2 separate regions of the Homo sapiens genome follow, and region 2 is linked to region 1. Evidence: fine-mapped expression QTL. A gene starts in region 1. The other region holds a variant in brackets. All regions are shown on one strand. Distances are between the middles of the regions.

What was found. PIP is the estimated chance that this variant, and not a neighbour inherited with it, causes the effect.
Region 2: its variant is fine-mapped to the expression of FOXN3-AS1 in B cells (Fairfax 2012, PIP 0.95).

The regions. Positions count from the first base shown.
Region 1 is chr14:89,414,453-89,419,826 of GRCh38, reverse strand. It overlaps FOXN3-AS1 (FOXN3 antisense RNA 1), which reads right to left and starts at 2,473. Exons shown (of 2, transcript NR_036500.1): 1 at 2,031-2,473; 2 at 34-667. FOXN3 (forkhead box N3) reads left to right here and starts at 2,594. Exons shown (of 6, transcript NM_005197.4): 1 at 2,594-2,956. RefSeq lists silencers at 2,213-2,502, 2,543-2,752 and enhancers at 2,448-2,742, 2,367-2,899, 2,900-3,433, 3,448-3,742.
Region 2 is chr14:90,204,464-90,209,837 of GRCh38, reverse strand. No RefSeq gene overlaps it. Among named protein-coding and RNA genes, the nearest start is that of PSMC1, 49 kb to the left of the region's middle. The variant G/AG (reference allele first, on the strand shown) is at 3,111.

The DNA.
Region 1 (5,374 bases):
TAGCCATGCTGCTCTAATAACCAATACAGTGTGTGTGTAGGGGGATTAAAGTTCTTGACCAGAGAAACATTTAGCAAAAGAATGCACAAAACATCAAGGGAGGGGCGCTCTTCTCCTTGGAGGAGGAACTGAGGTCCCACGCTGATGGGGGCAGATAAGCCTGGAATTGAGGACTTCCAGCTCCCAGATACTTATGTACTCTCCAGCCCATGCTCAGATGGGGCTGCAGAATGGTCCCATCAAGTCCTCTATCAGGAAATAAGTGTTTCTCAAAGTGATTTCTAGGGCACATATACAATTCGGCTGTTAAATGTGTTTGTAAAACAGTGTAGACAAGACATTAGACAATGCAGCTTGCTTATTTGTGACTTCTCAGGACCTAAGACGCAAGGGTCCTTTCTGAAAGTTCATGGGGAATTGTGAATGGGGTTGTTCCCAAACAAATTTGGCCCCTGCACCCTAGGTCAGGAAGCAAGTCCCAGAGCTGAGGTTCTATGGAATTAGAAGGTGGAAAAGGCCACATTAAGCCCTCCTTTGGCTTTCAGCATTTTTTCCCCCATTTCAGATAGACCGACAGGCAGACATGTGTCCCCTGCTGTCCACATCAGGCAGGGCTGGTCCACCACTTCCTCTTCAGGGTGACACCTTCTCACATCTCTTGCTGCAACTGTAATGGGAGAGAGAAATTAAGAAATATGTTTGAGAATGCAAGAAGCAAAAACACACATGGAATGACATATTCCATGTACAATCACCTTTGGCTCACATCCCCTCTTTTTGAACTCTGAGAAAGCAGGAGGGGACTGGGGCCGGTGAAAATAAGGTGCCACCTCTACTTAATATAAAGAGATTTCTGGCTATTGTGTGAGTGTAGCTGGGGGACTTGGGGGTGGGGTTGGGGGCTGGGGATGGAAGAGGAAGATGTAAGGGGGCGACTTCGTCCTCTCTAGGCCAGCAAGGGCTTGGACAAAGGTCTCTGGCCTTGGTTCCTCTGGCGGAGAATAAGCACCCTCAACTGACGCGCTGATGGAGGGGCAGGACCTGCATTAGCCGGAGCTACAGGAAAGCAGGGTACACATTGTCTCATCCTGGCTTTGTTACCACTTCTAACCCTGAGAATCTCTGGCGTGAGACTTCAAAGATCATCTGACTTGTCTCTGCCACCTTGTGCCTTTTGCTTAGTGACTTTGGGTAGGTCGCATCAAGTGCTCAGTAATCAAAGGGGTGGGGCTGGATGACCTCAGGCTACCCCTGGGCTTCCACCTCCTAATTGTCTCCAGATGGGGAGATGCCACACAACTTGGAAGTAGTAAGGTCTCCGGTGAGTCTGAAAGGCACATCTTTGCTGAAGACTTGTCACCTGCCCTCTTGAACCTTTGTTAGGGGGAATGACTCTCAGATTGGGGGGGGGGGGTCTATTTTTTGAGACAGAAAAAATTTTCAGAAGCCTAACTGGTGTTTCCCTTAGTCCCTCCTTTTGGCTAGGTTTAAAAGTACTGCATGCTAGAAAGCTTTCTCCAGGTCTACTCGCTGTTTTTTTCTGTAGTTTTCAGACCGCTCACGATGTCCTGTCCACTGGCTCAGGAGGGGGTGGCAGGAAGGGTGCCCTGGGCTTCTCCTCTGTAGAGGAACCAACCAATTTGGCTACCTGGGAGTAATGTGCAATCACATTTTTATTTTTGTCACCACCAGGGTGTCCTGTTGGACTCTCTCCTCTCATCCTCTCCCAAGGCGGCTGGTTGGTGTGGCTTTAGCAGTGGGTGCTATTATTTGGAGGTGCCTAGAGACTTAGAGTGGTGGCTGCACCATTTCGCTGGGTGGCTTGCGAATTGTCAGTCTGGTTCCTGAGAGCTCAAACTGAGATGGAAATGAGACCTGTTTTCTCTCTAGGCCGGCCGGGGCGTTCCGCACAACCCACTTGAGAGGCCCCACCGGCGTGGCCTTTAGGACGGTGCCTCTTGTCTTGTAATGGCCACCGGCCCTCCCTCGGGAGACACGCGGCCACCTGGGTGGGACGCTGCGGTGCTTACCTCCGGGACACGAGGTGGTCGCTGGGAGAGGGCTCGGAAGGCCCTGGGGGTCCTATCAGGACGCAGCACTGGGGAGACGTGGAATCTCCTCTTCTCACCCCCACAAGCCTCGCCCGCATCGTAATTCTTTTTATTTTTACTTTCGAGCCATGTAAGGCATGCAGATGGGGTAGGAGCGTTCCCGCGACACGTTGCCAGCAGCGCAGCGCCGGCCCGCTCGTGTGGCCGGAGCCCGGGGAGGGGACAGGGCACGCGCCGCCTGACCCACCTGCCCCACCGCCCACGGTCGCGGCCGCCCTGGGTCGCGGGACCCGCGCCGGTCACCCCCGCCCCGCGGGGCCCAAGAGGCGAGGCCGCGCGGCCCAGCCCCGGCCTCCGCCCTGGCTGAGTGCTGGGGCGCGCGAGGGGCGCGGGCAGGGTCCGCCCCGGCGGGTCAGTGCCCCGCGCCCCAGGCCGCTGGCGGCCAGGCCCACGTTTTCCCTTTCTCCGGCTCCCTCCGCCCTCCGCTCTGTCCCTCCCTCCGCCCTCCTCCCTCCCCGCGCTTCCCCTCCTCCTGCCTGGTCATGTGTCGCCTTTTTTTGTTTGCAGTGGAAACAATTTCTCGCCGCTCGGCGCGCCCCGGCCCGACGCGCCGCGGCGGAGGCGAGCGGGAGGCGGGACGGGGCGGGGAGAGCGGCGGGGCCGGCGGGAGGACGCGCGGCGCGCCCGGCGGACGCCGCAGGTCCCATGCCGCGCCGCGACCCCCGCGCCCCTGCCGCCCGCGCCCGCGGCCGCCCCCCGCCGCCCGCCGCCCCGGGCTCGCCGCGCCGCGCCCGCGCGTCCTTAGCGGGGCCACCGAGCGATGCCCGCCGGGCGCCCGCGAAAGTTTGTCGGCTCCTGCTGAAGGGCAGCGGCGCCCCCGCACCCCCGTGCCCCGCTCCGGCCAGGTGAGTTTGCACCCCGCTCCTGCCGGCTCCCGCGTGGGCTCGGGGGGCACCCGGGGCGGGAGGCGCGTCCGAGACGGTCCTGGAGACTACCTCGCCGCTCTGGGAAGACGAGGGACCCCGCAGGTCCTGGGGGGAGGGTCGGGTGTGGACCCCGGGAGCCCCCGAGCCGGGAAGTTGCCGGGTCCGAAGAGTTTCCTGCCCCGACGTGCGTGCTGCTTCCCGGTGCCTCGGTTTCCGAAAAGACGCCCGCAAGGAACAGAGTTGGTATTGTCTGCGGAGGACGGGGTCCCCGCCGTTCCGGGCCGGGGAGGGGGTTCCGATCAAGTGGAGACCCCAAGATGAGAAACAGGCTCCTAACAAAGATCACCCCCCGGCCAAACTGTGCAGACTTGGCACAGGCAACGAACGTCTCCGGAGACCCCCGAGGCCCGACCCCCCTCATCCCGGCCCTGTTTGAAACCCTCCTTGGGCCCTGGATAAGTTGGGGGACGGCGGGCTTTTATTGATTTGTTTTCGAGGCTCGCCGCGGTGCGGCCAATAAAAGGTTTATGACATCTGACCGGCAGTGAAGGTATGCGAGCTCCCAATTGCCCTGTATATGGGGATAAGAGCAGTTTCCCCCGTTGCCCGGCAACGCCGCTGATTGACGCGGGGTGCAGCCAATCGCCACTCCCGCAGGTCCCCTTGAAATGTTTTTGACAAGTACAGTAGACGAGAGTGAAGCGCGTGCGTGCGCGCGCGCGCGTGCTGGGTGGGCGGGGGTGACCCGGCCCCCCAAACTCGCTACTGCTCGGCTCTGGGAAGATTTCTTAACTTTTTAAAGTTCGCATCGAACATCTGTTCAGAGCTGGGCCAGTAATGTCTTTGTCAGTTATTTGGAGACCTTCTGTTTACTAGGCGAGAAACTAAGCTTTCTTGCCGCATTTTCTCCGTTAAAAAATAAAGAGGGTAACAAAACACAGCAAGTCATAAAAAAAACAAAAGAGGGTGTGTGTGTGTGTGTGTGTGTGTGTGTGTGTGTGTAGAGAAAAGTTGTAAGGAGGTCACCAGTGAATAACTATTTGCGTATCTGGTGGAGCAGCCTTGTTGGCAGCAGATTAAAAATGTTTGCTTAACTGCAACTCACATGATCCAGATTCTTTTTTTTTCCCTCTGAAACAGGAGGAAAAAAAGATTTGGCGAAATCTGTAGTTAGAGTATAATAATGGAAAACTCCTCAGCTGTGGTTTCTGGGAACTGTTTTTTTTTTTTTTTTTTTTTTTTTTTGGTTATTGTTGTTTTGTTTTGTTTTTACATGGAACTGTAGTGATCAGCAGCTCTTCACCCTGTTGGTATAAAATGCGGGATTTATAGGGATGCAGTGAGTGGTTGGAGAGTACGGGGTCCCAGCACAAAACGCACACATGATCCAAGGGTACTGAACTCCCATAACCCTCTCTTCGTGACAATGCCACTTTTTCTCCTAAAACCATATTGCTGGCAGTGTTTGTTTAAAACAAAAGGAAACATGGAGAATAGCGTGTTAGTTCCTCTGGGAAGCTACTGACAAATAAGCAAATTAAAAAGAAAGAGAGCAGCATGTTGTCATAGCAACAGTGCAATTAAATTACTTTACTGTCAGCCATGATATAATTTTCCTGTTTGGAAGCTCAGGAGACATAAAACTTTCATTTAGAGCTAAAGTTGACTTCAGTGGCTGGGTAGTTCTGTTTTATACTCTACTGTGGGCATATGCTGGTCATCAGAAAATTTTCTGATGGGATCTGAGGAAACTTTAAGAAAGACAAGTGGTGCTATAATTCGTTCATAAAGAAGTTAAAAGCAGGATCAGACCAGACTCTGTTGTATCCCCAAGCCAAAAGATGCTAGCTTGTTTTTTGTCTGAAATGTGTCAGGGTAACCTCCTTATTTGACAGAAAGAAATATTCCCTGTGAGTGAACCCAAGACGTCTGGAGCATCCTGCCTGGTCTGTACTGCAATGCCTCATGAAGTTTTCTCTCCTTAAGAGTTGGGCATCTTGGCCAGGCGCGGTGGCTCACGCCTGTAATCCCAGCACTTTGGGAGGCCGAGGCGGGTGGATCACGAGATCAAGAGATTGAGACCATCCTGGCCAACATGGTGAAACCCCGTCTTACTAAAAATACAAAAATTAACCAGTCATGGTGGCACACGCCTGTAGTCCCAGCTACTTGGGAGGCTGAGGCAGGAGAATCTCTTGAACCTGGGAGGCAGGGGTTGCAGTGAGCGGATTTTGCACCACTGCACTCCAGCCTGGGCAACAGAGTGAGACTCTGTCTCAAAAAAAAAAAAAAAAAAAACCGGTTGGGCCTCTCACCACAGCTCCCCCTTAGGCCTTGCGTCTAGCAGGTTCTACCTTTTGGAAGAGGGAAGGTACTATAATTCACAGGCACCCTTGG
Region 2 (5,374 bases), 790 kb before region 1:
GCAAACACATTCAAAAGCTAGCAGAAGGCAAGAAATAACTAAAATCAGAGCAGAACTGAAGGAAATAGAGACACAAAAAAACCCTTTAAAAAATTAACGAATCCAGGAGCTGGTTTTTTGAAAGGATCAACAAAATTGATAGACTGCTAGCAAGACTACTAAAGAAAAAAAGAGAGAAGAATCAAATAGATGCAATAAAAAATGATAAAGGGGATATCACCACCGATCCCACAGAAACACAAACTACCATCAGAGAATACTACAAACACGTCTACACAAATAAACTAGAAAATCTAGAAGAAATGGATAAATTCCCCGACACATACACTCTCCCAAGACTAAACCAGGAAGAAGTTGAATCTCTGAATAGACCAATAACAGGAGCTGAAATTGTGGCAATAATCAATAGCTTACCAACGAAAAAGAGTCCAGGACCAGATGGATTCACAGCCAAATTCTACCAGAGGTACAAGGAGGAACTGGTACCATTCCTTCTGAAACTATTCCAATCAATAGAAAAAGAGGGACTCCTCCCTAACTCATTTTATGAGGCCAGCATCATCCTGATACCAAAGCCGGGCAGAGACACAACCAAAAAAGGGAATTTTAGACCAATATCCTTGATGAACATTGATGCAAAAATCCTCAATAAAATACTGGCAAACCAAATCCAGCAGCACATCAAAAAGCTTATCCACCATGATCAAGTGGGCTTCATCCCTAGGATGCAAGGCTGGTTCAATATACGCAAATCAATAAATGTAATGCAGCATATAAACAGAACCAAAGACAAAAACCACATGATTATCTCAATAGATGCAGAAAAGGCCTTTGACAAAATTCAACAATGCTTCATGCTAAAAACTCTCAATAAATTAGGTATTGATGGGACGTATCTCAAAATAACAAGAGCTATCTATGACAAACCCACAGCCAATATCATACTAAATGGGCAAAAACTGGAAGCATTCCCTTTGAAAACTGGCACAAGACAGGGATTCCCTCTCTCACCACTCCTATTCAACATAGTGTTGGAAGTTCTGGCCAGGGCAATTAGGCAGGAGAAGGAAATAAAGGGTATTCAATTAGGAAAAGAGGAAGTCAAATTGTCCCTGTTTGCAGACGACATGATTGTATATCTAGAAAACCCCATTGTCTCAGCCCACAATCTCCTTAAGCTGATAAGCAACTTCAGCAAAGTCTCAGGATACAAAATCAATGTACAAAAATCACAAGCATTCTTATACACCAGTAACAGACAAACAGAGAGCCAAATCATGAGTGAACTCCCATTCACAATTGCTTCAAAGAGAATAAAATACCTAGGAATCCAACTTACAAGGGATGTGAAGGACCTCTTCAAGGAGAACTACAAACCACTGCTCAAGGAAATAAAAGAGGATACAAACAAATGGAAGAACATTCCATGCTCATGGGTAGGAAGAATCAATATCGTGAAAATGGCCATACTGCCCAAGGCAATTTACAGATTCAATGCCATCCCCATCAAGCTACCAATGACTTTCTTCACAGAATTGGAAAAAAATACTTTAAAGTTCATATGGAACCAAAAAAGAGCCCGCATCGCCAAGTCAATCCTGAGCCAAAAGAACAAAGCTGGAGACATCACACTACCTGACTTCAAACTATACTACAAGGCTACAGTAACCAAAACAGCATGGTACTGGTACCAAAACAGAGATATAGATCAATGGAACAGAACAGAGCCCTCAGAAATAATGCCGCATATTTACAACTATCTGATCTTTGACAAACCTGACAAAAACAAGCAATGGGGAAAGGATTCCCTATTTAATAAATGGTGCTGGGAAAACTGGCTAGCCATATGTAGAAAGCTGAAACTGGATCCCTTCCTTACACCTTATACAAAAATCAATTCAAGATGGATTAAAGACTTAAATGTTAGACCTAAAACCATAAAAACCCTAGAAGAAAACCTAGGCATTACCATTCAGGACATAGGCATGGGCAAGGACTTCATGTCTAAAACACCAAAAGCAATGGCAACAAAAGCCAAAATTGACAAATGGGATCTAATTAAACTAAAGAGCTTCTGCACAGCCAAAGAAACTACCATCAGAGTGAACAGGCAACCTACAAAATGGGAGAAAATTTTCGCAACCTACTCATCTGACAAAGGGCTAATATCCAGAATCTACTATGAACTCAAACAAATTTACAAGAAAAAAACAAACAACCCCATCAAAAAGTAGGCAAAGGACATGAACAGACACTTCTCAAAAGAAGACATTTATGCAGCCAAAAAACACATGAAAAAATGCTCACCATCACTGGCCATCAGAGAAATGCAAATCAAAACCACAATGAGATACCATTTCATACCAGTTAGAATGGCAATCATTAAAAAGTCAGGAAACAACAGGTGCTGGAGAGGATGTGGAGAAATAGGAACACTTTTACACTGTTGGTGGGACTGTACACTAGTTCAACCATTGTGGAAGTCAGTGTGGCGATTCCTAAGGGATCTAGAACTAGAAATACCATTTGACCCAGCCATCCCATTACTGGGTATATACCCAAAGGACTATAAATCATGCTGCTATAAAGACACATGCACACGTATGTTTATTGCGGCATTATTCACAATAGCAAAGACTTGGAACCAACCCAAATGTCCAACAACGATAGACTGGATTAAGAAAATGTGGCACATATACACCATGGAATACTATGCAGCCATAAAAAATGATGAGTTCATGTCCTTTGTAGGGACATGGATGAAATTGGAAATCATCATTCTCAGTAAACTAGCGCAAGAACAAAAAACCAAACACCGCATATTCTCACTCATAGATGGGAACTGAACAATGAGAACACATGGACACAGGAAGGGGAACATCACACTCTGGGGACTGTTGTGGGATGGGGGGAGGGGGGAGGGATAGCATTGGGAGATATACCTAATGCTAGATGACGAGTTAGTGGGTGCAGCGCACCAGCATGGCACATGTATACATATGTAACTAACCTGCACATTGTGCACATGTGCCCTAAAACTTAAAGTATAATAATAATAAATAAACAAATACATAAAAAAGAAAAAAGCCAGGCCAAAAAAAAAAAAAAAA[G/AG]AAAAACAAACAAATAAGCAAACAAACAAAACAAAATGGAGTGTAGCTCATTGCAGACAGCTGATTCAATGAAAGACTACAACTTTTCCTCAAATCCCTCCTCCCCATGCCATGACACTGGGGCATTAGAAGCAGCAGAGTGGGAGGACGAGAGGAATAAGGAAAGGCTCTGCCCCTTCCCCACTGTGAGGTCTTGAGCCATGAATTGGGTCTGAGCTGGGGATGGAGGATGCTTTGGACTAGAGTGAACTTCTTAATAGAGTGAGTCTTCCAAAAATGCGACTATTCTTAATATTAGAAGGGACAGACATGCTGGGATCTGCCTAAGGGGTGGAAAGGAGGATTCCTCAAGACATGGGTGAAAGGACAAGTTGGAAAAGATTAAAACAATTTGCGGTTTGAACTCTTCCTGAAAGTTAATAAAATTCAGTTGTTGATACATTTATTCATTCATGTATTCAATATTCATTGAGAGCATCTATTATGGTCAGGGCCTGGACATATTGATGAAGACAAAGCTCTTGTTCTCACAGAACTTATATTCTAGTCAATTTGTGTTTCGTGTCTCTGTGCCTTTGCACAGGCTGTTCCCTCTACCTGCATTCCTGGCTCTGTCCATCTTTCTGCACAGGATGAGATTCTTTCAGATTTCAGTCAGGCTTCACCTCCCATGGAAGACATCCTTGAGCTCCGTGGCAGCATTGGGAATCCCTCCTTCCATTCCCTAGGTTATGGCAACACTGTGTTGCTCTAATCATTGGCTCATGTTTCAGTTCCCCTCCTAGCCTGGGGTCACCCTATTATCCCCAGCGCCTCAATGAACACATGCATTGAATTATTAAAGAAAACTCTGAAAAGACTGTAAGTTCATTGGAAAAATCTGCCTCCTTTATTCACCGTTTTTTTTTTGTTTTGTTTTGTTTTTTAAGCACTTCACACTACGAGACCCTGAACATGTTGTTGCCTACCTCAAAATCCTGGGCCTCACTTTCCCCATCTGTAGAGTGGGCATATAATCTTACCTCCTCAGGCGCTATGAGGATGAAATGGAATGGGATGTATGGAGGGGAGTCCCAGGGGCTGGGCTGTGGGTGGAAGTGTGTTTTAGTCACAGCCTTGGGGACACCCTTGGTGAGTGCTTACTAATAGCTTCTGGATCACCCATCACATTAAGAAACTGGGACTCTGATGAGCTTGTAGACATTTTCTAGAGCTTGTTTATTTACAGATTGACTTCTCAGAGGGAACTGTTATTATTATTTGTTATCACCTCTGTAGTTGCTTCTAATTCCCTGTTTTTCAGCCAAATTGGTTGAAATCAATGTTTCTCGTATATGCCCTGGGATTCCCACCTCCCTGCTTTTTCTCATACTTGTAACTCTGCCAGCAGCCATTGAATTCCCATTCAACCTTCTAGACCCACTCAGATGCCACCTGTCAATAAAGCATTTTCTGATCCTCTCGGCAGGTTGTGTTCCTGCCTTCTTTTCTGAAAGTCTTTTCATTCATTGACTTAATTAGGGAGGTTGTGTTTGCCTTAACCCCTGTCCGAGCTGAGATTTCAGGGGCCATGTCTGTTTTGTGCCTGTTTCCTGAGACCTGAGTCTGATCCAGTGGCTTGTGTATGGGGAAATGCAAGAGAATAGAACTGAGGCCATGGAGGGAGGGTGATACAGATGGGTGTTGGGACAAGAGCCAAACAGCCCCATCTGAGCTGACCTCTGAGCTGACCTCTGTCTCTACCACAACCTGCCTGGGCCTGGCTCTGCCCAAACTTGCCCACATTATGCCAGCAGCCCCCACCCCCCCTTCCAGTGCATACATATGTGTTCCCACAAGCTCCCCCAACTCCCAGGACAAATCAGCTAGGGAAGCCTACATGGAGATAAGATTAGGTGCAATTTGTTAACAGGAGTTTTAGCTTTCTCTATTTTGGCAAAGCCTTCTTGACAGAGCAAACCCCCTGAGGAAATGCATCAAGCAACAAGTCCCTGTGGCATTTTAACAGCCAAAAAGCCAGCTGCTGAAAGAATTCCAGCCAGGCAGCTGACAGCAACAGGCTGGCTAATTAATGGAAACCCATTTGCAAAATTAGTGGTAAACATTATTACCCAGGTGTGCCAGCCCTAACCCCCAGCAGAGAGCAGTGGAATAAAAAGCTGGTTTTAAAGGCAGGGAAGAGCCAGGGAGCAGGGGTAGAGGTGGAAAGCTCTCATAGTCAGAGGGCTTGCGTTCCAGGCCTCTAGGTTCCAACCCTGAGTGAT